Regions from separate parts of the Homo sapiens genome. Here regions 2, 3 and 4 are each reported to be linked to region 1. Evidence: microRNA targets listed by miRTarBase, many of them from high-throughput screens and not tested one by one. Region 1 holds a microRNA gene; each other region holds the end of a gene's coding sequence.

Evidence for each region. Region 1 holds the annotated microRNA hsa-miR-5186 (AGAGAUUGGUAGAAAUCAGGU, at 4,468-4,488, opposite strand). A microRNA usually pairs through its seed, bases 2 to 8, with sites in the 3' UTR of a target mRNA and lowers its output. Matches are read on the target gene's strand: a 7mer-m8 pairs with bases 2 to 8, a 7mer-A1 pairs with bases 2 to 7 and ends in A, and an 8mer does both.
Region 2: the mRNA of IRGQ is a reported target of hsa-miR-5186. Seed matches in the 3' UTR shown: 7mer-m8 at 2,365-2,371 and 7mer-A1 at 2,046-2,052.
Region 3: miRTarBase lists ZNF566 as a target of hsa-miR-5186. Seed matches in the 3' UTR shown: 7mer-m8 at 4,345-4,351.
Region 4: miRTarBase lists SNAPC3 as a target of hsa-miR-5186. Seed matches in the 3' UTR shown: 8mer at 2,311-2,318.

What each region holds. Positions count from the first base shown.
Region 1 is chr3:151,561,437-151,569,579 of GRCh38, forward strand. MIR5186 (microRNA 5186) reads right to left here and starts at 4,559; the gene lies at 4,440-4,559. All of the region lies in intron 1 of LINC02066 (long intergenic non-protein coding RNA 2066), which reads left to right. It also overlaps a transcript of IGSF10 not described here.
Region 2 is chr19:43,585,491-43,593,633 of GRCh38, forward strand. IRGQ (immunity related GTPase Q) reads right to left here. Exons shown (of 3, transcript NM_001007561.3): 3 at 1-7,877. The coding sequence ends at 6,536. Among named protein-coding and RNA genes, the nearest start is that of IRGQ, 6.6 kb to the right of the region's middle. RefSeq lists an enhancer at 4,244-4,333.
Region 3 is chr19:36,441,960-36,450,102 of GRCh38, reverse strand. It overlaps ZNF566 (zinc finger protein 566), which reads left to right. Exons shown (of 5, transcript NM_001145344.1): 5 at 102-4,984. The coding sequence ends at 1,126. Among named protein-coding and RNA genes, the nearest start is that of ZFP82, 27 kb to the right of the region's middle. RefSeq lists an enhancer at 1-1,052.
Region 4 is chr9:15,458,143-15,466,285 of GRCh38, forward strand. It overlaps SNAPC3 (small nuclear RNA activating complex polypeptide 3), which reads left to right. Exons shown (of 9, transcript NM_001039697.2): 9 at 1,577-3,484. The coding sequence ends at 1,724. It overlaps PSIP1 (PC4 and SRSF1 interacting protein 1), which reads right to left. Exons shown (of 16, transcript NM_033222.5): 16 at 5,924-7,438. The coding sequence ends at 7,378. Among named protein-coding and RNA genes, the nearest start is that of SNAPC3, 39 kb to the left of the region's middle.

The DNA.
Region 1 (8,143 bases):
TCATCAGGTTCATCTGTACAAAGAGGTGTATAAAGGGATTTATTTAGAATTGCTCATCGATGCAAAATGCTGGTGACTCTTTTGTAAATATAAATATTATTTAATAGGGAAACAGTTTTATTCATCTCTATGTAATATGTATATCTATGTAATGAAATAAAATGTGGCTTTAAAAAGAGTAAACAAGATGCATATGTACTGACATGGAACGTCCTCTAAGATATCCTGATAAAGAAAGAAACAAGAAGCAAAATAATATATACATCTGTTACCATTTGTAGTTTAAAAATAGGAAGGGGAGTGGGGAGAGGTATACATATCTCTGGTAACCTGGGGAAGCAGAACCAAAGTATGTGGAAGGCAGAGGAGGAGAAATAATTTTTTCCTTATTATACAATCTTTTGTGCTGTTTAAATAGTGAAGCATGCTGCAATATTTCTTATTTAAATTACACAAATAAATCATTGAAAATGTAACCCATGTGTATAGCCTTGACGTTCTTCTGGTCCAAACACATACTTTCAAGACTTATCTTTTTCTTTTATCAGAGGCGTTTGAACCAGAGCAACTCCATCTTGAAAAGGGGCTGAGTACAATAAGGCTGAGCCCTACTGGGCTGCATTCCCAGGAGGATAAGGCATTCTTAGTCACAGAGATAGGAAGTTAGCACAAGATACAAGTCATAAAGACCTTGCTGATAAAACAGGTTTGCAGTAAAAAAGCCAGCCCAAACCCACCAAAGCCAAGGTGGGAATGAGAGTGACCTCTGGTCTTCCTCACTGCTGCAGTCCCGCCAGTGCCTGACAGTTTACAAATGCCACAGCAATGTCAGGAAGTTACCATATATGGTCTAAAAAAGGGGAATATTAATAATCCACCCCTTGTTTAGCATGTCATCAAGAAATAACCATAAAAATGGGAAACCAGCAGCCCTCGGAGCTGCTCTGCCTATGGAGTAGCCATTCTTTATTCCTTCACTTTCCTAATAAACTTGCTTTCACTTAACCCTATGGATTCACCTCAAATTCTTTCTTGCACAAGATCCAAGAACCCTCTCTTGGGTTCTGGATTGGGACCCCTTTCCGGTAACAGTTTTACTCTAGTATAAAGATGACACATACTGTTCAAAGCATCTTAAAGATCACCTGGTCAAACCACCTCATTTTAAGGAAGTACCTTCTAAAGGTACTTCCTCCAAGAGTGGAAGGTACTTGGCCAGGATTACACAACTTGTTAGTACCAATGTCCAGACTAGAGCCTCAAGCTTCTTAATTCTACAGAAGTGCTCTACTGTGGTGCCAGACCCCTATTGACTCCAGTAGGGAAGGCACCAATGCACCATGTCCAAGAGCCCAAAGAAGAGACCCAAGTGAATAAGATATAGACTTTATCAAGGACGTACATACAGGGCAGTCAGGGAGTGGTCGGATGGACAGGAAAAGTGCTACCACTTGTAAAGATCATGGAGTTTATATAAAAATGTTCATTTAACCCCCTCCACCTAGCAACCTCCACCTAGCAAACTCCATTTAACCCAAAACATAGGGCCTCAATCCTCTGCATGACCTGCATTCTAAGGGATGGGCCAGGGATTCATATGTTCTTCATAGAGAAGGAGTGAATCTCTGGGTTGGCCACTCCCGGATTCCTTAGCTCAGAACTCCTAACACACATTTTTCTTAGACGGTAGGTCATTCATAGGGTATGCTTGAGTTAATGCTCTCAGGTGTGTCTGCCATATATCTTCTCACCCTGCGGCCCTCTAGGAGAGGGAATAAACAGCCTTGACCGTGAGAGTGACTTTCTTCCCATTTCTCCTACCTGGTACTGCTTGCTAAGGCCCGTACCTCTGCACCTCATGTCCCAGGGCATCCTGCCTACACTTTAGGCATCAACTAACTAGAATAACAAAATAATAAAATGTCCTAACTTGGGCCTTCTTAATTTGAGGTATGTGAATGGGCTTCAGGAAATCCTGAATCTAATAAAAAGCTAAGGACTCTAGGGAGAGAGTTCAGTTTTCCATGAGCTTCACTGCCAAGTAAGACAAATAACACGTTTATGGATATATAAAAGAGACCTCAGAAGCCATCAAGCCATCAGATACTCAATTGTCCCTGACAACAACTTGCATTTTTTCCTTCTGTTAGAATTATATCCAAGTGCTGGAGAGTTGTCACCAACAACAGTAATATTCACTTGGACATTTAGCTCTAGTTTAAAGCACTGGAGAGAATTTGGTTTCCTGTAGTTGAATTTGCAGCGTTTAAAAAAAATATTAGCCTGCCTTATGATATTTTATAAGTATTTAGGAAGTAAAATTTTGGTTGAACAAAAGCCATAATTTATTTAACAAATATTTATATAGGGCTTACTATATGCTAGGCACTGTTTTAAATGCTTTATAATAATTAAGTCATTGAATTGTCAGAGAACTACCTATGAGGTAAGTGCTGTTCTTATATCCATTTCACAGGTGAGGAAACTGAGGCACAGACAGGTTGGGGAAGCAATCCAAATGAAGACATCAGAGGGTATTCACCCAGCAAGAGGCAGAACTAAGATCTAAATTCAGGCAGTCTGGATCCAGCATTTATGTTCCTAAACACATCTTTGCTCGCTTCCTGTTATGAGTGTGAAAAGAATATTCTGTTTCATAGAAGATGATCATCATCAGGTTTTACCACAAACCTTGCATTGGCTTTAGGAGTAAAACATAAATAGCTATATTTTTTCTAATTTCTTTATGTTAGTTCTAATAAACAATGTATTAAATACATATTTTTAGGGCATTACATGCATATTTAATTTGACCAAGCTGATATTATCGGGTTTCATACTCCTTTTTTGCATCAGTACACACATTCAATTTTATATTTGACTTTTTTTTTAATTGCACAGGGAGCCAATTGGCAGCTTTGGATCAAATTGGCTTACATATATGTTTTGGCCAGCATGACGTTTAAGAATTTATTTCCTTCCTTCCTTCCTTCCTTCCTCTCTTTGTTTCCTCCTTTCTTTCTTTTTTTCTTTGACAACATTTACAAATTGGGAAATTGACCATGAAAGTCTAAATTTCTGGCTTCTTTTTGAAAAGACAGAAGGAAGCATTGGGTTTGCATTCAGGCATGGAAATATTAGGCTGGACTGAGAAGTGGCTGACCTTTTAGATGAAGTTTGTGTTCCCCAGTTGGCCATAGTTTTTACCAGTTTGCTTTGCTTGATATCTGCATGCATTTGGGTTACGGCAGTTGAATGAGGTATGCATGTCCTTAGAGGCCAAGAAACAATTTACTTACTGACTGAGCTTTAGCATGAGAGAGCATAATGACATGTGAGTTACCGGTGAATCAATTACAAGAGGTACCCAAAGGTAAGCGTGCAGTTGAAAGTTTCATATACAAGTGGTTGTAAATAAATAGCCTATAACTAAAAAGTAAGAATCATGGTAATGGTTAAATGTTCATTGAATACATACTAAGCACAAGATTTCTTATAGGTATCAGTCCCTTTAACTCTTGTAACAAGCCTAGGAAGTAGAAAACTGAGACAGAGGCAAGCTAAGTAACTTGTGCAAGATCACCAGCTAATAAACAGCGCAGTTAGGACTTCAGTCAGGCAATCTGGTTCTGGAATCTGTGGCTTATATTATGCTATACTTTCTCTCTAAAAACTCTGAAAGAACTCTCTAGTACTGGCAGAGAATGGGATTTACTGGTTAATTCATATGATGGTTTGACAATTGCTGTGTGAATTATCAATTGTTAGGAGGTAAGACCAGTTGAGAACTTTAAGCAGTACTTCACTGGGGTTTGGCAAATTGGTAGAGAGACCTTGAATCTAGAATCTAGTGCTTGACTTTATAGGCCCAGAAACCATATTTCACCCATTTGTAAAAATCATAATATAAAATCACCAGTATGTTTGTAACCCAGAAGTACAAAAAGTGAATAAGGAATTTGAGATGCCATTATATACAGAGGTGAGTGGTAAGGTCTGGTTTACTGGCATCCTGGGAGCTCCTGGCCAGAGCAGAAGGTGAACATTGTCAAAATTGAAACAAGGGATCAAGAAAGCCAGGCCTGCCTCCAGGTTGAGGTAAATAGTTCAAATTATGAAGTTCAAGCAGCTACAGAATGATCTGTTCCAGGGGTTCAAAACTTTTTTGTGCATCAGACTCACCTGGGGGAAGTTATAAAAACAAACAAACATAGAAATGTTCTGCTTTATATTTTTAGACCTACTAAAGCACCTACCCTGGAGTTCTAGTGAGTTACTGAGCTAATTCTGTTGCTTCTGGCCCACTGATTGGTATTTGAGAAACACTGTTCTAGTTGGAATTTGCCTTTTGAGAACGTTAATGCATAGTATCAGATAGATACGAGAGTGATAGATTAAGATGATAGCTATGATTCCTGTATTAATTAATGCATGAAAGTGTTAGCCAGCTTATGGCATGACCCTCTCACCTGATTTCTACCAATCTCTCCCCAGAAAGAAATCAGCTGAGGAAAGGTTGGTAGAAATCAGGTGAGAGGGTCAAGTCATAAGCTGGCTGAGTTGGGGAGTAGGCAGGGGTCCAGTCCTGGGAGAATCAGTGCAGAAAGCAACTGAGGCAGTGCCAATGTTTAATGAGAGGCTTATAAAATTGCCACAAAGTGAGGCCCTAGCTACATGTCATGAGAACTCCCTGGCAGAGGGGAGAAAGCAAATTTGGATTAGAATGGGAGGTATCAGCTAGAAAATCAGAAATCTGACCAAATAATGATAAACATGATAGTTTATGAATTAGGAAGCAGGGAAGTGAAACCCTACCCCACAAATGATAGATTAGGAAAGATTTGAGATGAATAGTAGAAAAGATAGTGCATAAGGTCTCCTCTGCTCTCCCCAGAACTGAGGGATGATTAAAGTTAATAGCATTTGTTGGGTTCTACTTAATAAGTACAACTTTTTGGATTTATTAAACCAGTTGGCATTGGTTGTGTTATGCTATAACAAACTCCAAATCTCAGTGGCTAACAAGGAAGTTGACTTCTTGTTCTTCTGACAACCCATGTGTTGTCCCTGCTTTGGGTCCCAGGCTGATAGAATAGTCGCTATCAGGAGGATGCTACCATGGCAGGGACAAAGAGAGCTCAGAGGAAATCATGCCAAGAGATAAACATTCAACAGGAAAGTGGCATACATTGTTTGTGCTTTCAGTTCATTGGCCAGAATAGTTACATGGCCTCCACCAACCACTGGGAGCCATAGAGTGCTATGTGCCGGAGGGCAGAGAGCTGGGAATATTTAGTGAGCAGCATTCGGTACTACCATCTTTCCCTCTGAATAGGTTAACAGCCACAAGTCCTGTCACAATTTTTAGCAATTTCTTCAATGTCAAGAAGAATTATATTTCTTAGCTAACAGAGGTGGTGTAGTTTCAGGGTGCCTGCCTGGCCTATCTACAGCACTGTCAGCTCCATGCTCACCCTTGCTGAAGAGATGAGTCTCTCTGTTCAAGTTCGTCTAATGTCATAGCCTTTTCCCTGATTGGACCAGGGACCAACACCTATCCAGGTGGCTGTCAATCTGTTGGCTAGCCTGTAGGCAAATGTATTTTCTGAGACACAGAGTCTCTAGTCAAATGGATGTGGGCCTATGAAGTAAATGGGTCTGTAGACTTGGGCCCTGGGCATTTTGATCCTGTCTGTGGACAGTAGCCAATGATCATAGATGAGGAAGATTATATGCAGTTGAGACAAAGAGAGAGAAACTTCTATCTTCAGTGGTTCCCTGGATCTCAGCTCCTATTCCTGGGAGATTCACCTCTGCTTCATTTTTTGTGAAATGGCTTTATGGCCTTATAATAAATATTCATTTTATTTGAGCCACTTTATTATCCATATGAATAAATTGAGAAGCCTAGTCACTCTGCCTCTGCTGAGAGTATCATCTGTAAACCAGGACTGTAGAAATTCTGGGACTCGTGCTAGGGTGTATAGTTGGGAACTAACAAGAAAAACTTTCACTGTAAACCTACTTGAACTTTATTTTCTTATTTTCTGTATTCCTGATGCTCTGGCATCTTGGGCCTCACAGATCTGGAGGGATGGCCTCTCCCAGCATTAGTTAATTCCTGCAGATATCAAACAGTGTTACCTGGGAGGGTCTCTTTTATATGCAAACTAAGCAATTCAAAGCCTACTGTAACTAGCCCCCTACCTCTGTGGGACCCTTCCACTCCAGGCCAATAGTTTCTTGCCCTAATCAGCCCAGGGCGAGGTGCTAGACAATTCCAAACAGCTCCTACACCCCAGAGCCTGCTGAAATGATTCAACAAGACAATTCTAAACCTGCTTAGCCTATTTTCCTGCCTTGCCCATTCCTTTCCACAAAACTGCAGTAAAGGCGCTGACCCCTGCTTTTCCCCTGTGCCCCCTGCCTGGCTTCCACAAGCGACTTCCCTGCATTGCTGTGCCTCCTATTTCTAGGGAACTGTGAGTGCAAACACCTTCTTCCTTCATGACAGTCATTGTCAGGCTCACGTCTTACTATAAGTGATCAAAACAAACCCCAGTACATTTTAAAACAAAGCCTCTCTCTCTGTTTTCTTCTGGGCCTCAATCTTTGGGTACCTACTAGTTTATTTGTCAGAAGAGTAAAGACCCTCTGTTCTGGTAGGTGGTCCTCTCAGATGTCTAAATTATTAGCTGTCTAGTCTACTGCCACAGAACATATACAATAGAACAAAAAAAGTACTTTTTCCTCTTTAATCCTGTATTTATGATTATTATAATAAATTATCCTTATTTCTAAGCATATGTTTGGTAAAAAGTCAGTACTAATTGTCACAGGCACACTGTTTTACTGGACAAAGCTTGAAAACACATGGACACGTGCCTCCTCCAGACACTGTGCAAACCAAAATCCTTTTATTATGACAACAAAACAATGACCTCATTTCTTTCAGAATTTAATTATCGGTATTACAATTCTCTTGTTAGGACTTTAAATGGGGTCTGGGACACTACTAGATAGTGTTTGGCTTGAGGACACAGAAATGCCTGAATCACGATTTGATTTATAATATCTCCCTAGGGACGGCTCACACAGAGTTCTCTTTCTTTATAAAACCCTGCTTCACCCCTGTGTGTAATAAGCTGACATTCAAGCACATAGCATGTCTGTCAGAAATATCCACCTCCCTTTAGTCTTTGAACATCATGGTGGGGGAGGATTTAGTTTTAGTATAGCAACACTACCCTCCAACCCTCCCATGCAATAGAAAAAGTGTATCCTAGCAATTTTGACTTCCAGACACTGGATTGTCTCTTTTCTGGTAAAGGAAGAATGGGCTGCTGAAGCTCCATTTACTAGGTAAGACACCCTTATGACTGTTCTCAGGTGTATTTGTCAGAGTGTGTAGTCATGAAACCAAACTATGTTAAATATTTCCAGCAGAAAGAAACTTAATATAGGGAATCAATAGATTACAGCAAAGTGCAGAATGCTACTGTTGACGTCACAGTCATTGCACAGCCCCCGAAAAGAAGAATAACGGAGGAGTATGAAGTCTGAGGTAGCCGAACCTAGCAACTGCTGCTAGTCTGCCACCAGCATTTCTATTGCAACAATACATTCTGCCTCCTTTCCACCTGTATTTAATTTGAGACCGAATCTTGCTCTGTTGTGCAGGCTGGAGGGCAGTGGCAAGATCTTGACTCACTGCAACCTCCATCCACTGGATTCAAGCAATTCTCCTGCCTCAGCCTCCCTAGTAGCTGGGATTACAGGTATGCGCTACCACATCCGGCAAAGTTTTGTAGTTTTAGTAGAGACGGGGTGTCGCCATGTTGGCCAGGCTGGTCTTGAACCCCTGATCTTAAGAGATCCACCCACCTCAGCCTTCTATAGTGCCAGAATTACAGGCATGAGCCACTGTGCCCGGCCTTTCCATCTTTTGAATATCACTTGTGTGCCTCTCATTTGTTATCTCTACTATAACTGATGGGGTGGGATTGTAGGAAATGTAGTTCCCAGGCTTCCTGCCCCATGATACCAGAAAAGAGTGTAAAAGGGGCAAAAGTGATGCTAAGTGCTGAGATAATCTGTCACACCATTTAAGTAGGGGTATTGCAATGCCTTGGCTTTCAGGGAC
Region 2 (8,143 bases), not on the chromosome of region 1:
TGGCCTCCCAAAGTGCTGGGATTATAGGTGTGAGCCACCACACCCGGCCGCATAAGCACTTTCCAAGCCTCTGCTTGTATCATGTTTGCTATTGTTCTAGTGGCTGAAGCAAACCACATAGTCAAACCTAGAAGGAGAGCAACAATCCAAGGGCATGGCTACAGAAAGGCTGGCCCAGTTGGGGTCATTAATGGGTATACCTGGCTCCAGAACTAAGGCGCTTTACCATCATAAGCTCCCAATGTTTAAACAGTAAGTCTGCCCGCACTCCTTCCAGGGTGGAAAAACTCAGATACTGATAAATTCTCTTGATCACAGCCCAGTTTTTCCCAGCGGATTCCCCACCATCCCTCCTATCCCCAGACGCTGGAGTCTAGGTTTCCAGCCCAGTCAAAATCTCAAGGATCTTTCTTTTCCCTCAAACTCCAAAAGAACAGACACGCAATAGGATTTCTATTCATTTTTATTCATTCCTCCAAAGAGCACCACAGGCCAACCACACCCTTGATGTGTCCTTCATGGTTCCCCACTGCAGTGGACACAAATCCCTCCATCATTATCCAGGCATGGATGGAACTCTGCTGTGGTGAGGAGGTTGTCTCGCCCACTCACCCAAGTTTTCCATGCCTGTTCTGCTTTTGATGGCAATGCCAAAATTCATCATACATTTCCTTGAATTCCTGCCTTCAAGGGTCTTCCAGCCCTGTGGTGCCATGCAGACACACTTCAGTGGCGGCCAGTGATCTGTCTACAAGGGAGTCTTAGTCTTTTCTGCTTGGATGCTCCCAGGGACAGATGCCTGCCAACAACCTTATGTCTTCACAAAGACTAAAATGGAATCCCATTAAAAGTTATGATTTAAAAGGCGACCACCCCCAAAAGAAGTCATAACACTCAAGGGTGTCAATATATACAACTGTGTAAACACAACCAATCTACAACTATATCAACACAACCAGCACTCCTCTATGGGCACAGACACACACACAAAATTGTCTTGCTTTCTCAGATATGATCTCTGGCATGACTCCTGCTGGCATGAGGGCAGAGGAAATTGAGAGGAGCAAAGCATATAGCAGTGATGTCAGACAGGACCAAATCAGAGACAGGGTCAAAGTGGCAGAAAAATGAGGAGCACACTCCGAGCAAAGGCATGGGGGTGAGACAAAGGCACCCAGACTAGAGCCATCTTGGTGCTGCCCAGGGGTGGGTGGCACTCATGTTTGAGCTCCATGTGTCAGGCTTTTCAGGAAAGGGTGTACTATGTTATGTGTCTGTGTGCATATTGTGTGCCTGCATGTACATACATACGCTGAATTCTCACCATAACCATGTGAGGTAGATGCCATTTGTAGAGTGACTTGCCCAAGTCAGTGGAAGGACTATCTGCCCCTAGAGCTAGACTGATAGAATTTTCTATGTTGATGGAAGTATTCTGTACCTTCCCTGTCCAATACCATAGCCACTAATCACATGTGGCTACTCAGTATTAATGTTGCACTACTGCCAATGAAACATAGAATTTTAAGTTGTATTTACTTTTAATTGAACAGCTGAGGCCAGGTGTGGTGGCCCATGCCTGTAATACCAGCACTTTGGGAGGCCGAGGTGGGCGGATCACCTGAGGTCAGCAGTTCAAGACCAGCATGCCCAACATGGTGAAACCCCGTCTCTGAGAAAAATACCAAAATTAGCCAGGCATGGTGGCATACACCTGTAGTCCCAGCTACTCAGGAGGATGATGCAAGAGAATCAGTTGAACCTGGGAGGCAGAGGTTGCAGTGAGCTGAGGTCATGCCACTGCACTCCAGCCTGGGTGACAAAGTGAGACTCTGTCTCAAAACAAAACAAAACAACCCAGCAACTTGGTCAACATAACCAGACCTGCATCTTTACTTAAAAAAAAAATGGACACCCATCTCAGTTTTTGGAAAACTATTATATAATTGGAACAACTTGGATATGTGAATCTACTTCTCCAACTATGAATTTTATGAAATCAAAATAAAGGTCAAGCATTTCAGATAAAAATGTACCATGGTAATTGAGATTTGGTGTAAGTGTAAAATATATAACAGATTTTGAAGACAGCACAAAAGAACGTAACATAATTCATTTAAATAATACCGATGACGCCAGGCACGGTGCCTCACGCCTGTAATCCTAGCACTTTGGGAGGCCGAGGTGGGTGGATCACCTGAGGTCAGGAGTTTGAGACTAGCCTGGCCAACATGGCGAAACCCCATCTCTAACCAAAAATACAAAAATTAGTGGGCATGGTGGCGGGTGCCTGTAATCCCAGCTACTCGGGAGGCTGAGGCAGGAGAATCACTTGAACCTGGAAGGTGGAGGTTGCAGTGAGCCGAGATTGTGCCACTGCACTCCAGCCTGGGCAACAAAGCGAAGCACTATCTCAAAAAAAAAAAAAACTAAAAAACCGATGACATGTTGAAATGCTATTTTGGATACATTGGGTTAAGTAAAACATGTTAAAATGAATTTAACCTGTTTCCTTTTACTTGTCTAATGTGGCTATTAGAAAACTTGGCTTACTCAGCACTTTGGGAGGCTGAGGTGGGCAGATAACTTGAGGCCATGAGTTCCAGACCAGCTTAGCCAACATGGTGAAACCCCATCTCTACTAAAAATACAAAAATTAGGACGGGTGCAGTGGCTCACGCCTATAATCCCAGCACTTTGGGAGGCTGAGGCCGGTGGATCACCTGAGGTCAGGAGTTCAAGACCAGCCTGGCCAACACAGTGAAACCCCATCTCTACTAAAAATACAAAAATTAGCTGGGCATGATGGTGCATGCCTGTAATCCCAGCTACTTGGGAGGCTGAGGTTGCAGTGAGCCAAGATCGCACAACTGCACTCCAGCCTGGGTGACAGAGCAAGACTCCGTCTCCCAAAAAATAAATAAATAAATAAAATAAAAATACAAAAATTAGCTGGGCGCGGTGGCTCATGCCTGTAATCCCAGCACTTTGGGAGGCCAAGGCGGGTGGCCTGAGGTCAGTAGTTCCAGACCAGCCTGATCAACATGGTGAAACCCCATCTCTACTAAAAATACAAAAATTAGCCAGGCATGGTGGCATATGCCTGTAATCCCAGCTACTCAGGAGGCTGAGGCAGGAGAATCACATGAACCTGGGAGGCGGAGGTTGCAGTGAGGCGAGATCGTGCCACTGCACTCCAGCCTGGGTGATGGAGTGAAACTCCATCTCAAAAAAAGAAAACTTAAAATGACATATGTGGCTTGCATTTCGTTTCTACTGGACAGTGCTGCCCTGCAGCCCTCCCATTCCATCACGTGGCTGACATGCCTGATTGCAGGGCTTAGACACTAATATGATGGGGTAAAGATATGGATGAATATTCTTCCCCAAAGCTGAAAGAGCTTTCATGAAAATGCCTGGAGCCATTCAGTATAGAACTAAGTGCTCTTCCCCATGGTAGCTATCTCAACTTTGAAGGGACAAATTTTGTCAGCAGTGGGAGTCCAAGCTGGAGATGATGGTACCATCCCTTGTCTGCCCTTGGATCAGTTACCTTTGTCTTCAGCTTTTAAGGGAGACAGGATCTCAAAACTAAGGTTCTTATCCAGCTCTTTTATTTCACAGATGGGAAAATAAGGCACTGTCCAAGTAACACACAGTGACAGTGGCAAAGTCGTGCTTGCTTCCCAGGTCCCTGACCTCAGACAAGGGTGTTCTCTCCCATTAAATGCTTTTTTCTCCTCATCTTGCTCCATTTTCCTATCTTGTGGCAAGAGATTAACAATCTAAATTCCAATCCTAGTTCTGACACTGACCAATGAAATAAACATTTAGGCTGGGTGTGGTGGCTCACACCTGTAATCCCATCAAGGCAGGAGGATCACTTGAGGCCAGGAGTTCAACACTAGTGTGGGCTACAAAGCAAGACCCCCGTCTCTACAGAAAATTTGGTGCTGTGTACCTATAGTCCCAGCTACTCTGTAGGCGGAGGTGGGAGGATCGTTTGAGCCCAGGAGTTGGAGATGGCAGTGAGCCATGATCATCCCACTGTATTCCAGCCGGGGCAACAGAGCAAGACCCTGTCTCTAAAATAATAATAATAATAATAAATATTTACGAAGCACCTATTGTGTCAGGCACCTATTGTTCTAGATGCTGGGGAAACAACAGAGAACAGGACAGGCAACGGGTCAAAAGCCAATAAACAGGTAAATAAATAAGATCATTTTTGACAGTAATAATTGCTACAAGGAAACTCAACTGGCCGAAATGAATAGTGGGGGAATGTGAGCTACTTCAGATAGGGTGGTCAGGGAGGGGAAGTCCTCTCTGAGGGGATACGTGAGCTGAGATCTGACTGAGCCCGTCACAGGAAGGTTTGAGAGTAGAACAGGAAGTTGTGAGTAGAGCCTTGAAGGAAAGAGAACAGCAGGTGCATGGGTCCCCAGGCAGGACTCAAGGTAGCCACTCAGGCATCAGAAAGAGTCAGGCGGCCATGATGGCTCACACCTGTAATCCCAGCACTTTGGGAGTCTGAGTCGGGTGGATCACCTGAGGTCAGGAGTTCGAGACCAGCCTGACCAACAGGGTGAAATCCCTTCTCTACTAAACTACAAAAATTAGCCAGGTGTGGTGGCACATGCCTGTCATCTCAGCTACAGTCATCACATCCCTGTACTCCAGACTGGGTGACAAGGTGAGACTCCATTTCAAAAAAAAAAAGAAGGAAAGTCTATCAGGCTGGACAGGAGTGGGAAGGGGCAGTGAATGAGAATAGGCAAGGGCCAGACCCACAGGGCCTTACTGTGTGCTGTTGGGCCTCAAGCCTGCCCTCTCTGGACTTTGCTCTTTCTGTCTACGACAAAAGGGATTCTATCGCTTGGATTCTCAGATCCTCCTTTTCTGTTTTTGACACTGAAGAATTCTGTAACCTGCAACTTTTCCCCCACATGTGGCTAGCAGCCTAGAACATTCCAGGCACTGTGGTTTCTGCCTTTGCTTCATTCACTCCTGGCATATTCCCATGGTCTCAAGTGCCTGACCACCCATTTGGTGGGCCCCTGGCTCAATGCAGCACCCTCTATGTACATCAGAAAGCAGAGCCTCTTGGGGATACCCGAGGTGTCCATACAGAAGTGTTTGGACCAGTGCAGCAGTACAGCTGCTCTTCTGAAAAGGAAGGTGCACAAAACACCAAGGCCATAAAGGGTTATGGTTAAATACCAGGAGAAAAAGGCCAAAAAAAGATAGAAACTCCTAAAGAAAAGAGACAGAGAAACAGACTCCCCAGAGATCACCTGAATTGCTCAGCACCTAGAAGATGAAGGCAGTCATATCCCTTCCCAGTCACACTCACAGAGGCAGTTGCCGGGATCCCAATACAAGGTTTGGAGGAGCTGTCTCTGAGGTATGCTTTACTGCCCTTCCACACCCAAAAGACCTCATTCCTGGTCCCTGGCTACTCCCAGAGCCCACCATGCCCAGACCTCTTACCCACCTCACCTCATTTTTGTGGGACCACCCTCCCTACATGCTTTTGGAGGGCAATTATAGAAACCCATCCACTCCCCAGGAGAGATCAAGAAGTCTCCAGCTTTCTCGCACAAGCCCCCGATCCCTCCTCCAGATGCAGACCTCCCCTTACCCAATATTTAGGAACCAAGGTCCACAGCCATCTTAGAACCCCGGAAGTCTCAGACCCCAGGGGCCTCCGCCACCCCATCAAGATTCAAAGCCCACTGCTCCTTGGGGACCTGTGTGCAGGCTTTTTCTCCCAGAGAAATGTAGACCCTGTTTCCCTCTGAGGCTCTGAAGCCCAAGAGTTCCAGCTCCCTGGGGCGCTCAGGTCTCCCTCCCCTATACTGGAGTTCAGGTCCCAGTCATGGACACCTCCCCACCAATTAGGAAACAGGACTTCTACCAGCCTCCCTGGAGGACTAAACATCCAGTAACTCCAGTTTCTACTCCCTAGGAGACAAAGACATAGTCCCTGCTAGAGTCTGGGCCACCAACTCCCTTCAGGACAGAAGGGTCTAGATGTCATTCACCATGGTTCCCAAAGGTATCAGGATTCCTGGCCAGGGGCGGTGGCTCACGCCTGTAATCCTAGCACTTTGGGAGGCCGGAGCGGGTCGATCGCCTGAGGTCAGGAGTTCGAGGCCAGCCTGGCCAACATGGTGAAACCCCGTCTCTACTAAAAATACAAAAATTAGCCAGGTGTGGTGGCAGGCACCTGTAATCCCAGCTACTCCGGACGCTGAGGCAGGAGAATCGCTTGAACCCGGGAGGCGGAGGTTGCAGTGAGCCGAGGTCGCGCCATTGCACTCCAGCCTGGGCAACAAGAGACTTCGTCTCACAAAAAAAAGAAAAAAAAAAAAAAAAATCAGGATTCCTGTCCCCCAGACTCTCTGAATCCAGGTGATAAGAAGTCACACATCCCAGCTGGAAGTCAAGAGTCCACATCCCCTTCAAGCACCCAGGATTAAGCCCAGGCATCCCCTGTCAGAGTCTGGACTCCCAAGCCCCCTCCCACTCCTCACTGGGCAGGCTCAGGGGGTGCCAGCACAGCCTCAGCATCAGCCCGCATCTCATCGAGAGCCTGCAGCAGGACGCCGTGAGCCGCTCGGTAGCCCAGGCCACCTGTCGCCGCTGCACCACCCGCAGGCCACAGGAAGGAGAGAGCCCCCAGTGCTGCGCCCCCAGCAGTGCCCTCGCCCGCCCAGGCGCCCAGTCTTGCTTCCACCTCGGCGCGCGTCACCGGGCCTGGGAAATGAGCGCGCGCTGCCAGCTCTCCAGAAGCCAGGCCCAGGGCACGCTCACGTCGAGCCAGTGCCGTGGGTTCCAGCCCCAGGCCCCGTCGCCACTCCGCCAGCTGACCCCGCAGAAGTGCCACGTCGCATGCCCAGCCCAGCCCTGGGAGTGGTGCCGCCGCCGCCGCCAGACTAGCCAGCAGAGCTGGCCTCCACGCCCCGGCTCGCAACGCCGCAGCCTTGGTTCGGGCAGCGCTGGGAGATGCTGGTGGCAACGCCAGCAGCAGTGCCCCTGCCTGGGCTGGGGGGAGCGCTCGCCGCAGCCATTCGCATAGCCCTGGGAGTCCGCCAGGCCGTAGGGGGAACACTGGCGGCGGCGCCTCCTCCAGCACCTCCCACGTCTCGTCCTCCGGGCTTAACGCAGCGGCCCGCTCTGAGTCGCCACCACCTGATTTCTTCATGCCGACAACCTGCTGCAAACCCTCGCTGCCAGCTTTCCCAGGACCTTCCCCGCTGCCTGCTTTCTGCGATCCAGCGCTACATTTCTCCCTTCCCTTACTGAGTGCATTCTCCAATCCCCCTCCACCTGCGTTCTTTAAGCTCTCGCCCTTGGGATTCTCCATCTTGCCTTCTCCCAGACACTCCGGATCCTCGCCCTCGCCGTCTGTGCGCACGCAGACAAGAGGCGCATCTGGTAGCAGCAAGGCCTGGACCTGGGCCCAGTCCTTCTCAGTGGGGGCCCCAGGGGTGACGAGGATGAGGGCGTCGTAGTGCGTTGGGTGAGAGGCGGCGGCCGCGGTGGTGGCAGTGCCCGTGTGGCCCAGAGGCACGGTCCAGAGCACCACATTCGGGCGCTCTGGGGCTGGGAAGGGAGTGGGTGCTGTGGGGACCGAAGCAGGCGCAGCGCCTGGGTCGCCAGGATCCAATCCAAGCAGCATGTCCACCACAAGGCCCACGTCAGCCTTGCCAGCCACGGCCAGGTCTAGCCGTGCGCTGCCCAGGCGCTCCAGGCCTGAGCGCACCCACGACAGCGCAGCCTCAAGGCCGCCGGTCTCAAAGGCCTCACGCACAGCCTCTAGCTCTGCTGCACCCAACACCTCGAAGCCATCCTGCGCCGGTGGCAGGAGCCTGTGGGGACAAGAAGGGACAGGGTCAAAGGTAGAAGAGGGGCTGGGTGACATGGACTGGGCTATGATGACAAGGGCAGAGCTTTCCTAATGATCCCAGAATGGGGCAGGGGTAGGAAAGGGAAGGGCCAGACTGATGGCACAGCAAATAGAAACCAGATAGGGAGAGGCAGTGATGATATGGGTGGGGCTTCAAGCAATAATGGAGTCTTGATTATTGGACGGGTGGACATAAGGTCAGGTTTCCCACCCCAGCCTAAAATGGGG
Region 3 (8,143 bases), not on the chromosome of region 1:
CATTTGTAAAAAAAATTCGGTTAAATTCTCCCATATTGATTGAAGTTTTGTTTCTCCCAAACAAGAAAAATGTGAGTGATTACTTTCATATTTTCTTTCAGTCCTGGAATCAAGATGTGAGACCAAGAAATTATTTCTGAAGAAAGAAATTTATGAAATAGAATCAACCCAGTGGGAAATAATGGAAAAACTCACAAGACGTGATTTTCAGTGCTCCAGTTTCAGAGATGATTGGGAATGTAATCGGCAGTTTAAGAAAGAACTCGGCTCTCAGGGGGGACATTTCAATCAATTGGTATTCACTCATGAAGATCTGCCCACTTTGAGTCACCATCCATCCTTCACATTACAGCAAATCATTAACAGTAAAAAGAAATTCTGTGCATCTAAAGAATATAGGAAAACCTTTAGACATGGCTCACAGTTTGCTACACATGAGATAATTCATACCATTGAGAAGCCTTATGAATGTAAGGAATGTGGAAAGTCCTTTAGACATCCCTCAAGACTCACTCATCATCAGAAAATTCATACTGGCAAGAAACCCTTTGAATGTAAGGAATGTGGAAAAACCTTTATTTGTGGCTCAGACCTTACTCGACATCACAGAATTCACACTGGTGAGAAACCCTATGAATGTAAGGAATGTGGGAAAGCCTTTAGTAGTGGTTCAAACTTCACTCGACATCAGAGAATTCACACAGGTGAGAAGCCTTATGAATGCAAAGAATGCGGGAAGGCCTTTAGTAGTGGCTCAAACTTTACTCAACATCAGAGAATTCATACTGGGGAAAAACCCTATGAATGTAAGGAATGTGGCAATGCCTTTAGTCAGAGCTCACAACTTATTAAACATCAAAGAATCCATACAGGTGAGAAACCTTACGAATGTAAGGAATGTGAAAAGGCTTTTCGTTCTGGCTCAGACCTTACTAGACATCAGAGAATTCATACTGGGGAGAAACCCTATGAATGTAAGATATGTGGGAAGGCTTATTCTCAGAGTTCACAGCTTATTAGTCATCATAGAATTCATACTAGTGAGAAACCCTATGAATATAGGGAATGTGGAAAGAACTTTAATTATGACCCACAACTTATTCAGCATCAAAATTTGTACTGGTGATGAAACAGAATATATGAAATGTGTAGGGAGGCTTTTAATTATGGCTCAAAACAGAATTTATCTTGTTAATAATTCCTCTAGATAGAATAATGTAGAAACATTTTATTTGTGGACTACAGCTTATTCAGCCTGGGAAAAATAATGTTGGAGAAATACTCTATGAATAGAATATACTTTGGAAGCCCTTAACTAAACGCTTACTTCTCTTGACATCAGATAATTCAGTCTAGCAATATGATAGATAATTCAGTCTGTCATACTGAAAATGACAGCACTTTTAACACCTTTCTAACCTTCTTAACGTCAGAGAATTTTTGTAGAAATGTAGTCCTGTGATTGTCATTTTTTCCCCTAATTTCTCTAATTGTTACATTCTTAGTATTTTAATCCATATTAAATTTATATGGCTATAAATTTCATCTGTTTACATCCTGATTTGTATACTATTTTAAAAATACCTTTAGTACCTGGGAGAAGTGACCTCTTTATTTTTGAAGATGGCTTATTCTTTTTGTTCTTTATAACATTAAGGCTTTCTTATTGTAAAAATGTTCATGAACGACATTTTACTCAATAGAGATTCTTCATTATCTTCATGGTGTTTTGTTGTGTTACTGTAATATCACTTATGAAATCCTATTGGTGGATATCGTAGTCTCCTCTAGATATTTTGCCATAATACATGCCAAAATACAAGTCCCTGCTGGACATTCTCCCTAAGCACATCTTTGTATCATATCTTTTAATTGCAGAAGTAATGTGTGAATATATTTTCCTTATAAAAGATGCAAACATTACAAAAAGGCAAATGTACCCTTTGACCATATCCCAAAGGATAGTCTTTATCAGTTCATTATTTATTGCTGATCATTTTTCTGTTCATATATACATGCGTGTCTCAGTAAAAATTATAAAATGGGGGATAATTATAATACCTACCTCATAATGCTTTGTGAGGATTAAATGAATTAAGATCGATAAAGTGCTTAGAATTGTGCCTGACATGATAAATACATACTCACTGAATGTTAGTCATCGTTATTATATTCATCATCATCAGTATTATTATTTGTAGAAAGGCTTTTTAACTTCTGCAGAACTTAGTCACCATTAGGCAGGGTGTTTGACTGAAGAAAGACCCTTTGAAGGTAACAAGTTAAGAAAATTTCCCATCATCATGTACTTACTATTGAACATGAAATAATCCTAGGTGTTGGGGGGGAAAGTACTGTGAATAATGTGTGTGAAGGACTTTATTCCGACTAATACTCTTTTTGTCGCATTATATACCCAGTAAAAAAGAAAAGAGAACATAAGCAAAATATTGGTGCACTAATGAGGAAAAAAAGTATGAAAAGAGAAACAGCATCATATTTAAAAAATGGACAGAGATAGAAACATAGTTACAGATTTAAAAGGTTCTGTTGAATATTATGCTTTTTTCTAATATGTTTGAAAATTTAAACAAAATGGTTTTTAAGGAAAATATACATCAATATTGACTCCAAGAAAATTAGGACTCTTCAAAGACTCTCATAAACACAGAGAACAGGGAAAAATTAGCATGTGATCAGTTAACTATTACTAATGAAGCACCAAATCCAGTTTCTTTCTAAGGAAAACTTTATCAAATGTTCAAGGAACTATTTCAGTTATATAGAAGTACACATCTTGGCTCACGCCTGTAATCCCAGCACTTTGGGAGGCTGAGATGGAAGGATCATTTGAGGCCAGGAGCTTGAGACCAGCCTGGCCAACATGTTGAAACCCCATTTTTACTCAAAAATACAAAACTTAGCCAGGCATGGTGGCACATGCCTGTAATCCCAGCTACTGGGGAGGCTGAGGCAGGAGAATCACTTGAATGCAGGAGGTGGAGGTTGCAGTGAGCCAAGATCACGCCATGGCACTTCAGCCTGAGCGACAGAATGAGACTATTAAAAAAAAAAAAAAAAAGTCCACAGTGTAGCTTTGTTTGGGGTTAAGTTAGTGTTTTGAAATGGGCCTTCCCTGTGCTCAAAACATGCTCAGCAAGCAGCTCCCCACGCTGGACAGATCGCATATGTGGAAGGATGAAGTTTATGTCTGTAGAACTGTTATTTTATGCCCCACTTCCTTTTTTCTTAGATCCTGTGTAGACGGGTCTCTCTGAACATTGTGTTACTTTACTTTACTGGCATAAGGAAGTAAAATATTTCATAATAAATTTGAGAAAAGTAGAGTGAGCAAAAATACCTGCAAATGAGAGAATTACTAAAAATGGACTGTTGTAATGTTTTGCGTTATCAAAATGAAAACTGCCAAATGAGATTTTGTTTACTTTCTTTTCTTGTGTGCTTATGTCTTTTATAAAGTTCTTCATCTAAAATTATAGAGATAGTGCATTTGCACCCAAATTAATGAAACAATACCATTAAAGAGAAAGAAAAGGGGCTGGGCACAGTGGCTTACGCCTGTAATCCCAGTGCTTTGGGAGGCCAAGGCAGGGGGCAGCCTGGCCAATATAGTGAAACCCCATCTCTACTAAAAATACAAAAATTAGCTGGGCGTGGTGGCATGTGCCTGTAGTCCCAGCTGCTCGGAAGGCTGAGGCAGGAGAATCGCTTGAACCCGGGAGGCGGAGGTTGCAGTGAGCTGAGATCCTGACTGCACTCCAGCCTGCATGACAGAGTCTCAAAAAATCTGTCTCAAAAAAAAAAAAAAAAAAGAAAGAAAAAATGATTATCTTTGCCCTTCTCCGTTCCTCATTCCCTCCCCTCTGTCAATTTTCTTCTGAATAATATTTAAAGGTTGTGTATATTACCCATATATTTCTTCATGCTAAAACATTAACACACAATTATTTTATTATGTTTTTACAGAAAAATGGATAACTATACATTTCCCTGAAATTTGCTTTTTTACATTCAACTGTACATTTTGGATTTTCCTTCAATAGATGATGATCTAACAGTCTTTCTGATGGTTACAGTATGTTCCACAGTGTTATTTACCAATGCCTTTTCAACCACTTTCCCAATTGTGATATTATGGATTGTTTGCGCTTTTTTGCCATCTAAAAGTAATGCTGCAACAAACACTTTGTATTCTTGTCTGTTTTATTTCTATAAAATAAGCTTCCCAAGTCATTTCCAGTGTTTTTGCTTTGTTTTGTTTTGAGACAGAGTTTCACTCTTGTTTCCCAGGCTGGAGTGCAATGGCGCAATCTTGGCTTACTGCAATCTCCGCCTCCCGGGTTCAAGAGATTCTCCTGCCTCAGCCTCCCAAGTAGCTGGGGTTACAGGTATATGCCACTACGCCTGGAAAATTTTGTATTTTTAGTAGAGACGGCATTTTTCCATGTTGGTCAGGCTGGTCTCGAACTCCTGACCTCAGGTGATCCACCCTCCTCGGCCTCCCAAAGTGCTGGCATTATAGGCATGAGCCACCGCACCCGGCGTCATTTCCAGTGTTTTCTATGTTTCCTAGGAAGGTTTTGCTTCTGGAAGATTTCAGAGGGCAAGAGAATAAAGGAGTGGAGTGCAGTTTTTCATATATGTGATTCTGTGAGTGTGTATACACAGAGATTTAATATTTTAATACATCAGGAATTGATTATACGATCTAATGCAGGATGTCAGACTTGTTTCTATCCAGGAATAAAACCAGTTATGCCAGAAGTAACTATTATTCACCTTTCTCCTACTGAATTAAAATACTATCAGTTGTATATTAAATGCTCACATCTATTTCTGTTCTCCATATTCTAGCAATCCTTGACACTTTTCAATAGCTTTTATTACTTGGAAATAAAGATGTATGTATATATTATTAATATATAGTTTATTATTTGGAAATAAAGATGTTTCTTCATGAGAATTTTTGACTCATTTATTTTCCAATGAAAACCCCATTAGGATTATATTTTGAATTTCATTCAGTTTAAATGCAGAGTATCCTACATGAATAAACAATTGACACTGAATGGAATTCATTAACACATCTTGAGGTTTCTTTTATAACTCTTCATCCTCTTGACTCTCTAATATCTAATAATAACACCATCTACTGTGATGTCTCACAATACTTAAAATATGCTAGTAATACCTGAAAATTTATTAGAGTTCTGCTTATAAGGTGATAGATTCTTTTGGGCTCTATAGTTATATAATCTGCAGATAAAGGTGACATACCTATCTCACAATATTTTTTATATCTATTTTATTTTATTTTATTTGAGACGGAGTCTCCCTCTGTCGCCAGGCCGGAGTGCCGTGGCGCGATCTTGGCTCACTGCAACCTCTGCCTCCTGGGTTCAAGTGATTCTCCTGCCTCAGCCTCCTGAGTAGCTGGGACTACAGGTGCACACCACCACGCCCAGCTAATTTTTGTATTTTTAGTAGAGACAGGGTTTCACCATGTTGGCCAGGATGGTCTCGATCTCTTGAACTTGTGATCCGCCCGCCTTGGCCTCCCAAAGTGCTGGGATTATAGGCATGAGCCACTGCGCCTGGGCCATCTTATTTTCTTATTGCATATGCAGACCACAGACCTGGTGAGAGTGGGTATTGGGCAGCACTTTTTTTTTTTAACCATATTTTACTCATTTTTTACAGAACAGCCAGTTTTTGAGATTTTGTTTTCTTCTTCCTATTTTTAGCCCTACTCTTGTTTGTGTGTTATAAGAGAAATGACTTATTGCCTTGGTGAAATGTGTTAAAACTGTGTATATTACCTCCCTTCATTGGACCCTTAATTTCTCCATGGTCTCTAGTACAGGCTATGATTTTCTATTCCTACTTTATAGAAAATAGATTTTCTATTCCTATTTCCATCCCATTTTCATTCAACTGAAAATGTGATGGGCAATATCTATACTTTATATCTGTGAGGATTCTGTGTAGACATTCTGTCATCTTACTTTTAAGTGTAAACTACAGAAATAAACCACAGGTTCAATGCAATCCCTATAAAAATACCAATGACATTATTCACAGAAATAGAAAAAATAGCCCTAAAATAGCCACAAAAGACCCAGAATATCCAAAGCCATCCTAAGCAAAAAGAACAAAACTGGAGAAATCACATTACCTGACTTCAAATTATACTGCTGAGCTATAGTAACCAAAACTGCATGGTACTGGCATAAAAACAGACACATCAACCGATGGAACAGAATAGAGAACCTGGAAATACATCCGTACATCTACAGTGAACTCATTTTCAACAAAGGTGCCAAGAACATACATTGGGGAAACGATAGTCTCTTCAGTAGATGGTGCTGGGAGAACAATATCCACATGCAGACTGAAACTAAACCCCTACATCTCACCATATACAAAAATCAAATCAAAATGAGGCCAGGCATTGTGGCTCATGCCTATAATCCCAGCACTTTGGGAGGCAGAGGCAGGTGGATCAGCTGAAGTCTGGAGTTTGAGACCAGCCTGGCCAACATGGAGAAACCCCGTCTCTACTAAAATACAAAAATTAGCTGGGTGTGGTGGCATGTGCCTGTAATCCCAGAAACTCTGGAAGCTGAGGCGGGAGGATCGCTTGAACTTGGAAGACAGAGGCTGCAGTGAGCCAAGATCATGCCACTGCACTCCAGCTTGGGCAACAGAGCAAGACTGTCTCAAAAAAAAAACAAAACAAAACGGCGGGGCACGGTGGCTCACGCCTGTAATCCCAGCACTTTGGGAGGTCGAGGCGGGTGGATCACGAGTTCAAGAGATCGAGACCATCCTGGCCAACATGGTGAAACCCCATCTCTACTAAAAATACAAAAATTAGCTGGGCATGGTGGCACGCGCCTGTAGTCCCAGCTACTTTGGAGGCTAAGGCAGGAGAATCACTTGAACCCAGGAGGTGGAGGTTGCAGTAAGCCGAGATCACACCACTGCACTCCAGCCTGGCGACAGAGCAAGACTCCGTCTCAAAAAATAAAATATGAAAAACATTAGCCAGGCATGGCGGTGCGAGCCTGTAATCCCAGCAACTTGGAGGCTGAGGCAGGAGAATCACTTGAACCTGGGAGGCGGAAGTTGCAGTGAGCCAAGATCGCGCCATTGCATTCCAGCCAGGGAAGAAAAAAAAAAAAGATTAAAGACCAGGATATTGGTCTGGACAAAGATTTCTTGAGTAATAAATACCCCAACATCCCAGGTAATGAAAGCAGAAATGGATAAATGGGATCACATCAAGTTAAAAAGCTTCTGGAGCACAGCAAAGGAAACAATCAACAAAGTGAAGGGACAACCCACAGCATGGGAAAAAAATTTGCAAACTATCCATCTGACAAGGGATTAATAATATACAAGGAGCTCAAACAACAGGAAGAAAATCTAATCTGATTTTTTAAATGGGCAAAAGATCTGAATAGACATTTCTCAAAAGAAGACATACAAATGGCCAACAGATATGTGAAAAGGTGCTCAACATCACTGATCCTCAGAGAAATGCAAATCAAAACTACAATGAGATATCATCTCACCCCAGTTAAAAAGGGGTTTTAGGAAGCTGGGCCCAGTGGCTTATGCCTGTAATCCCAGCACTTTGGGAGGCCGAGGCAGGTGGATCACCTGAGGTCAGGAGTTCGAGACCAGCCTGACCAACATGGAGAAACCCCAATCTCTACTAAAAATACAAAATTAGCCGGGTGTGGTGGCGGGTGCCTGTAATCCCAGCTACTCGGGAGGCTGAGGCAGTAGAATTGCTTGAACCCAGGAGGTGGAGGTTGCAGTGAGCCGAAATCGCACCATTGCACTCCAGCCCAGGCAACAAGAGTGAAACTCTGTCCCAAAAATAATAATAATAATAAAATAAAAATAAAATGGCTTTTATCCAAAGGACATGCAATAACAAGTGCTGGTGAGGATGTGGAGAAAAGAGAACCCTCATATGCTGTTGGTGGGAATGTAAAGTAGTACAGCTACTATGGAGAAAAGTATGGAGTTTCCTCAAGAAAATAAAAACAGAGCTACCACTTTGGGAGGCTGAGGCGGGTGGATCACGAGGTCAGGAGATCGAGACCATCCT
Region 4 (8,143 bases), not on the chromosome of region 1:
ATCTAAGAATATTTGTACTTTAGGTTATAAATATGAAGTATCATCTAGTAGGGAAGTGCCAGAAAATCAATTTAGTGAGTTAAAACTAACATTCTTAAATAGTCAGGAAATATTATATGTACACAAGTCCAGGGATAGGTCAAATTTCAGGCTTGTAAAATGTATACAGCTAGGTGAATAAAAATAAAAGTCACTAGTGTTAAGCAAAGCAAAGAATTCTCTGATAGAATACATTCAAGAAAAGCTCTGTACAATAACTCCCTGTTAGAGGGTCACAGTGCACATTACCATAAAGGGATTTGGGAAGTCTAACCAAAGAAAACCTTGTTTAATCCAAAATGCTCGAGAGCCATGTTCTTTCTGCCTCTTGTCCACATAGTTTACATAATCAGCTTCATCAATAAAACTTCATCAATAAAACCACAGTACATCACATGAAGTTAAAATATAGTTTTATAAAATTTTTACTTTATGTGATTCTACATGTTTAGATTATAAGGCATTTCTTACTGTGGGTCAGTAAAAAAAAAATTTGTTGCTTTTGGAGGCTGAGGTGGGAGGATCGCTTGAGGCCTGGAGACCAGCCTGGACAACACAGCAGTAACTATAAAAAACATATAAAAAAAATCTGAAAGCCACTCAGAGGAAAGGAAATTTAGTACAGGTTGAGCATTCCAAATTTCAAGATCAGAAATCCAAAACCTGAAAGTGTTTGAGTGGCAACATCTGATGCTCAAATGATCATTGGAGCATTTTGGATTTCAAATTCTCAGTGGGATGTTCAACCGGCAAATATATGCATAATATATTTAAAAATCTGAAAAAAATCTGCAATTTGAAATACTTCTTTTTGATCCCAAGCATTTCAGATAAAGGATACTCAACTTGTATCTTCAGTTTGTTTTCGCCACCCCACCACAATATTCTTTTCTGAAAGATCAATAGGAAAACATGATAAATCAAAGTGAAAATAATGTTAAAAGCAAACATTCCATGAGATGCAGAATTCAAACATACCATACAATAGCATCTTCATGCCATTCAACATTTTGGTTGAATAATGTTGCCCATATTGCTATTTGTATATACTTTATAACATAATCTTGAGTTCTAGGTAAAAAGAGTTATATAGTTTTCAAATTAACCAGTACTCATTTATCAGTTAAGAAGGTATATTAAGCAAAAGTCTATCAGATTTGTAGCATCTAATTTTGCCATGGTTTTTCAAGATGGTCTGTTAGAAGAAAATGACTATATTCGTACTTGGAGGATAGGTATGTCGTGGCAAATGTGTGATGCTTTCAAATAGATTTATATTCTTCCTTTAAGGGTAAGTATTACAGAGAAACAGCATTCTGCAGTGTTTCTTAATGTTAGATGCCCTTTCGCTTTGTAGAGAGAGTATTGGTGGTGATGTATTTGTATCTATGTATACAAAATTAAGGGATTATTATGCATTAATAACAGACTGATAAGGAAATAGAATGTTATATTTACATATTGCTACAGGTCATAAAGCATGTTAAGTATGGCAAATTTGATTGTAATGATGTACTTCTTTTTTTAAAAACTACAGATGGGTGACGAACAATGACAGTTTTGCACCAGAGGACCCATGCTTCTTTTGTGATGTTTGCTTCCGAATGCTGCACTATGATTCAGAAGGCAACAAACTGGGGGAATTCCTTGCTTATCCTTATGTTGATCCTGGAACCTTTAATTAAGAATAGCTACACTCACAAAAATACCCCCTCATGAAATAACTGTTCTCTTGGATGGTTACCTTATTTCTAAGAAACGCCACTGAGGAACAGGATCCACTTTGAACAGTCCGCTAAAGCTATCAAAAAAAAGTCCAAATGACAGATTTTCTTATAATGATAGTATTTAAATGTTTATAACATAGTTTAATTTTATATTTATTCCAGATAGTATTTAATTTAGTGCTTTTTACCCATTTTGAGTTGAGTTGTAGTACTTTATATATTCTGACTTTAAATCCTTTGTCAGACACACATATTCTTTCTCCCAATCCATGCCTTCCCTATTCATTCTCTGTCCAGAGTTTTTTGCTAAAGATAGAATTATTAATGATACATCAAGTAGTGGAAGTGTTTTGAAAATTCTTTGAAGAATGTGAGAGCTACACCTTCTACCATGAGGCTTCCAAGGTAAAGATCCTTCAAATAACTGTAATGGAAACTAGGGAGAATGAATTATTTACAAATAAGACAAAATTAATAGCTTTGGGATTATTTATTTTTTGAGACAAAATCTCGCTCTTGTTGCCCAGGCTGGAATACAGTGGCGCAATCTCAGCTCACTGCAGCCTCCGCCTCCCGGATTCAAGTGATTCTCCTGCCACAGCCTCCTGAGTAGCTGGGATTGCAGGCACCTGGCACCATGCCTGGCTAATTTTTGTATTTTTAGTAGAGACGGGGTTTCACCATGTTGGCCAGGCTGGTCTCAAACTCCTAACCTCAGGCGATCCACCCGCCTAAGCCTCCCAAAATTTTGGGATCACAGGCGTGAGCCACCGCGCCCGGCTGCTTTGGGGGAATTTAATCTTAGTGTGCTGTTTAGTAATGTTAGGTTTTGTTTTGGAGGAAACTAGGCATACAAGACATGTTAATAAGACTATGTGAATAATGAATTTAAAAAGATCTTGAGTATATACTCATAACTCCAGAAATAACATTAACTTGAAGCTTTATTTCTTGACAAAAGCTTTATGAATGTTATGAGTTTAAAATATGTCAATTTAATACTATGATTTAAAAAACAATAGCAGATTTCGTATGACTGTGGGGACATGGAAAAATCAAGATCCTATTGATTGCTAGCTCTGGCTCACTTATTCTCCGGTAATGATACTATTGGATATATACCAAAATTATATAAGCAAAAAGAAAAAAAATAAGTTTTCCTGGCCCAGGTCTTCCATTCTTCTGGTCCCCTTACTATAGTAATTCTAGTTACTCTCATCTTATTCTGAGGAAAAAAAAAAAAACCAAAACTTTTTAAACTTATTTTTTGACATAGGGTCTTACTGTGTCACCCAGGCTGGAGTACAGTGGCGTGATCTTGGCTCACTGGAGCCCTGACCTCCCTAGGCTCAGGTGATCCTCCCACCTCAGCCTACCGAGTAGCTGAGACATGGTGGCACAGGCCACCATGGCGGGCTAATTTTTTTATTTCTTGTAGATACAGGGTTTCACTATGTTGCGCAGAATAGTCTCGAACTCCTGACCTCAAGTGATCCATCCGCCTTGGCCTCCCAGAGTGCTGCGATTACAGGCATGAACCACAGCGCCCAGCAAAATAAACTTTCTTTATTTTCAGGTCTAGACCATCAGATAGATTTATTCAAATATTTTCTGGGAACCTTTATGGGTAGAACATTTAATACTGTTTAGAAGACTTTTAGGAATACTATAGATTTCAAATGCATCATTTAAAATAAATAAATTCCACTTTCTCTCTCCTAGGTTGTATTTAAATTTGACTGAATATCTGGATGGCTAAGAACAGACATTTATCTTACACATGGAAAACTGACGAAACCTATAAGCCTATGTGTTTGACAGTGAAGTATGTTTTATGGACTTAAATGCCACAAACAGTTAAGTCCATTGGCTTGGAGATGACAAGCACGAGTTTCTGGTATGTCTAGTGTTCTCATTCACTGATTCAGTCAGTACACAGATAATCAGTATAGAGAACTTAAGAGGCTGGCTTATGTTATACCTAAATTTTTACTTTCTTGTATACAACAATGCTAAAATTGAGCAGATTGATAACTGCCAGCAAACCATAGATTTAAGATAAATGAATGATTTACCCAACCCTAAAATTCCATGGGTAAAAATTTTGATTCCTTTATTTTCAATACTGCGTTCCTTATAGGTCTTACATGCATATGCAAGGATATTTTATCTTATTCATTCATTTCATACTCTCAAAACACCAAACTTCAAAAAGTTAATTATTGTCATAATGCATTATTCCATGTGTGGTGTCAATACATTTTAGCGGACAAAGAAGAAACATGCCAGTTAAAACATTTCTGCTACTGGGATTCTTTATTAATTATTTGAGAATGTTATTTTGCTAGTTCTTAAGGTTAAGTTTTTCATCAAAGACTCAGGTACCTATTATTGTTCCCTGGTGAAACTGAGGAGAAAAGTTAATCAACCAGGTTACTCCCACAGTTTGCCCGTGTGTTATGTATCAGTTATACAGGTATCCCACCAAGTTCAAGTCAAAAGAAATTCCTAACTTTGTATATTTCTGGAGCTATAAAACCCCTGATTTAAGACAGCTTTTCTCTTTTTTCGAGGCAGCTTTTCTTTATGCTTATTTCAATCAAATGTAACACGCCTGTCAAATTACATGTAACACATTAGCTAATGAAGATAGGCAACTGAAAATGTTGTCATGAACATGTCAACCTGCTTGGTAGTTGAATTTGACTTTTATATAATAGTGGATACACATGCACAGAAGTTACTAGAGAAGCAATAGCTATTTCTTTAAACATTCTTCAGGCATCAGTACCATTTAAGGACAATTAGACATTCTAGTTTTACTAGGAGAAAGGTCAGTCATCTCTAACATTGTGTTGCAGAATTACACGACACAAACATAAACACATTTCTGCCTATTAAACCAGTTTCTTTGTTTCTAAAGAGTTTAATGATACAGGTTTGCTATTTCCATTAGAGCATCCTTTTTCTGGCCAATCGGACAAAATAGAGTTAGCAAAGCCCTCACAGCACCCTATGAAAAATCTCTGCTCTTATACAGGATTAGATGCAGACCTCATCTTGACCTAACATCTGTAACCAGGTAAGTGTATGAGTAGGAACACAGACAGCAGTACTGTATCAGCAAAATCTATCATATTATTTGAAATCACTGGATATAATATTAATTATAAAGTGTATGGTTCTCTCCAGTTGTTCACATACCAAATCCCAGTCAGTTCTCAGATTCAGATAGATGTATCTGCAATTTCTCCAAGCAGCTAAGAAAACCTTCAATGGTCAGTTCTGCTTGGTCATGGTATGACTCTTTTTTTTTTTTTTTTTTTTTTTTTTTGAGATGGAGTCTTGCTCTGTCTCCCAGGCTGGAGTGCAGTGGGGCAATCTCAGCTCACTGCAACCTCTGCCTCCCGGGTTCAAGCAATTCTCCTGCCTCAGCCTCCCGAGGAGCTGGGATTACAGGCACGTGCCACTGCGCCCGGCTGATGTATGACTCTTTTATCCAGTAATCAAAACACATACGTACATACACACACATACCAGCCCAAAAGAGGTGTTAAAACATACATATTACACGTACTTTTTGGAGGGGTGGGGTGGGGTGGGGTGGGGTGGGGTGGGGGTTATCTATCTCAAAATTACCTTTTGGTGCCTTGTCAAGCTGTGGAGTTTTGACCACACACACAAATTGAGCCAATGAACAATTTCAATGATCCTGAAAGTTCTTAAGTCTTATGAATAATTATCAAGAGTTCTGAGAAGTTATCTGTAAATCAGCCTATGACACCATTTCTTGAGAGTTATGATTAAAGAAACAGCAATTATGCTTGAAGCGAACATACATCAACTAGTTAGAGCAAGGTCAGCCTGTACAAGCTGACATAAATTATGAGAATGATGCTCTATCTCTAGAATTGGAATATTCTGTGGCTTCTTTGTAAAACTATAGATCTGGTGGGTCATGGGAAGAAAGGGAGGGTGAACAAAAGATAAATATTACCTTTATTTTTTATCATCTTGAGCTTACTGTTTAGTTACCCCGTTTCCCAAAACAGCACAACCTCTGTGACCAGTTAACTAAGAAATTATTTCCTTGGCAGCAAACCCAGAATTCCATCACTTACTCTTGTAAATAGCAAGAAAGTAATTTACTAGCAGAGTTTGATAGAAAAATTCTTTAATGAAAACAAGTTTACACGTTGAACTTATGGCTTAACTAGAATAAATCTAAGTAAGTTAAAACTGTATAAGGACCAAACAGATAATGACTGGTATATATGCAGGTTCTCTCAAAACGGTGATTCCTAGTTCCATTATAAGACCTCTTTAAAAGCAAAAATGCAATTCTGTAGATGAAAACAGTTATCTCAGAGGGTCAACCACACAATGTCATACAGAGACGCTGGTCTTAAGCCATTTTTTTCCATATTCATATAATTTCAAAACATGAGAAGTATCCTACTTGCTGAGAAGTGCCAAATGACCCTAATATTCAAAATATCTTAGAAATGCTATCCTTTAGTTAACATACCCTTAAATTTTGTAACATTGATTTTACCCTGGATTTAGTCCATACACGTCAATGTACAGACTTATCAAAGTACAATGCTGGAACAACTAGTGTTTGTATTTTTGGAATCTAGAAAATAAAAACAATATAGCCATGATTTCAAATAGGTGAGTTTCCTTATATAACATTTATTCATATTTATTGTATAAGCATCATGATTTTTTCTTCCAATTAAGTTTTAGTGACTTCCTAAAGACATTTTTAACAACATTCCTCAAAAATAAACTTACTTAGTTTTCAGTTTTAGTTACTAGTGCCTGCCTATAAAAGGACCTTAAATGATTTAACCCTAAAGCCAGATTCATTCCTATATATACCCAGTCAGTTGTCTGCAAAGAAGTCCTAAGACTTCACTGAATGCCCAGCCACAAAACTAAATTACCTTCAAAAATTAATGTTTTATAGTTTGTAGAATTCTCAGTTCCATGTCAGTTGCTTAATTAGTTGTCATACCAAAAAAAACCATACAGAGCACACATTGTTCCAAAGAAGCTGGATAATGTAGCACAATGTAGACTGTGAGATTAAAATTAACTTTTGATAAAAAGGGAGTGAGTACTTGTATAGAAGTAACATTTTATCTACCATAAAAATGTGTAACTTCTACAAAACCCACAAACAGTGAAAAGACAGTCTGGTAAATCCAAGGTTTGTAAAAACTATGCACAAAACCCACAGTATTTGGGAAAAGAGGCAAGGTTTATACAAGTAGCAGTTTTAAAAATGTAACTTTGTTCTACTATCAATTACACATTAACATACACACACTAATTGAAAATATGCTACAACCATGTCTGGAAAAGCAGTTTAACATTTTCTAAATGGATTTTATCCCACATTTACTGTATAATGTAGCTGTTAATACTGCACAAGTACACTTAGCGATAATGTTTACTTTACTTTAAAACAAAGGGATTTTCTCCCTCAAAACAAGTTTTCAACATCAAACCTATGCTTATAAAAATTTAAAACTTTCAGCAGTCTATTTCAAATGAAAACCATTACAAACTTCTCAAGTGTTCTCTATATTCCAGGTATGTCAACCTAGTTATCTAGTGTAGAATCCTTCAGAGATATTTCAGTCTCTCTCTCTTCACTGGATGGCCTGAAGAAAAGGGGGAAAGGTACAACTGGAATTAGGATTTTCTCCTGATGAAGGAAAAAAAGACATTAAGTCTGCATTATATTTTTAAACCCATGAAAAGACTGAAACCAACCAAACAAAAGAAAAACTTGACTTGTTATTAGAACAGTCATTATTATTTTTTTCTTCTTCAAAACTGTTATTTTACCATGTTGTATCTTCTTCCCAAAGTAATATGCAGATGAAGCAAAATAACTCAGCAAAGTGTCATGGACCAAGCCCTTTCCATCATTTCTAGCATAAAAGTGAATTCTCTTTAAAGAACATGAGAATGTTTTATATCTGTGATACCAACATATTTCAAAATCTTAATAAAAAGAGAGGTTGATACACACATAGACAACAAGATTTCCCTCAATTTCAGAATTAGAAGGGATGCTTCTATCTAACTCCTTCAGATACACAGTGGAACAAAGCAAGACTTCAACTATGGCTCCATAGCCTATTTTAGGGTGGGTATTAAAAAATAGCCTGTGATGGCCGGGCATGTTGGCTCACAGCTGTAATCCCAACACTGGGAAGCCAAGGTGGGTGGATCACCTGAGGTCAGGAGTTCGAGGCCGGGCTGGCCAACATGGTGAAACCTCATCTCTACTAAAAATACAAAAAATTAGATGGGCGTGGTGGCAGGTGCCTGTAATCCCAGCTACTTGGGAGGCTGAGGCA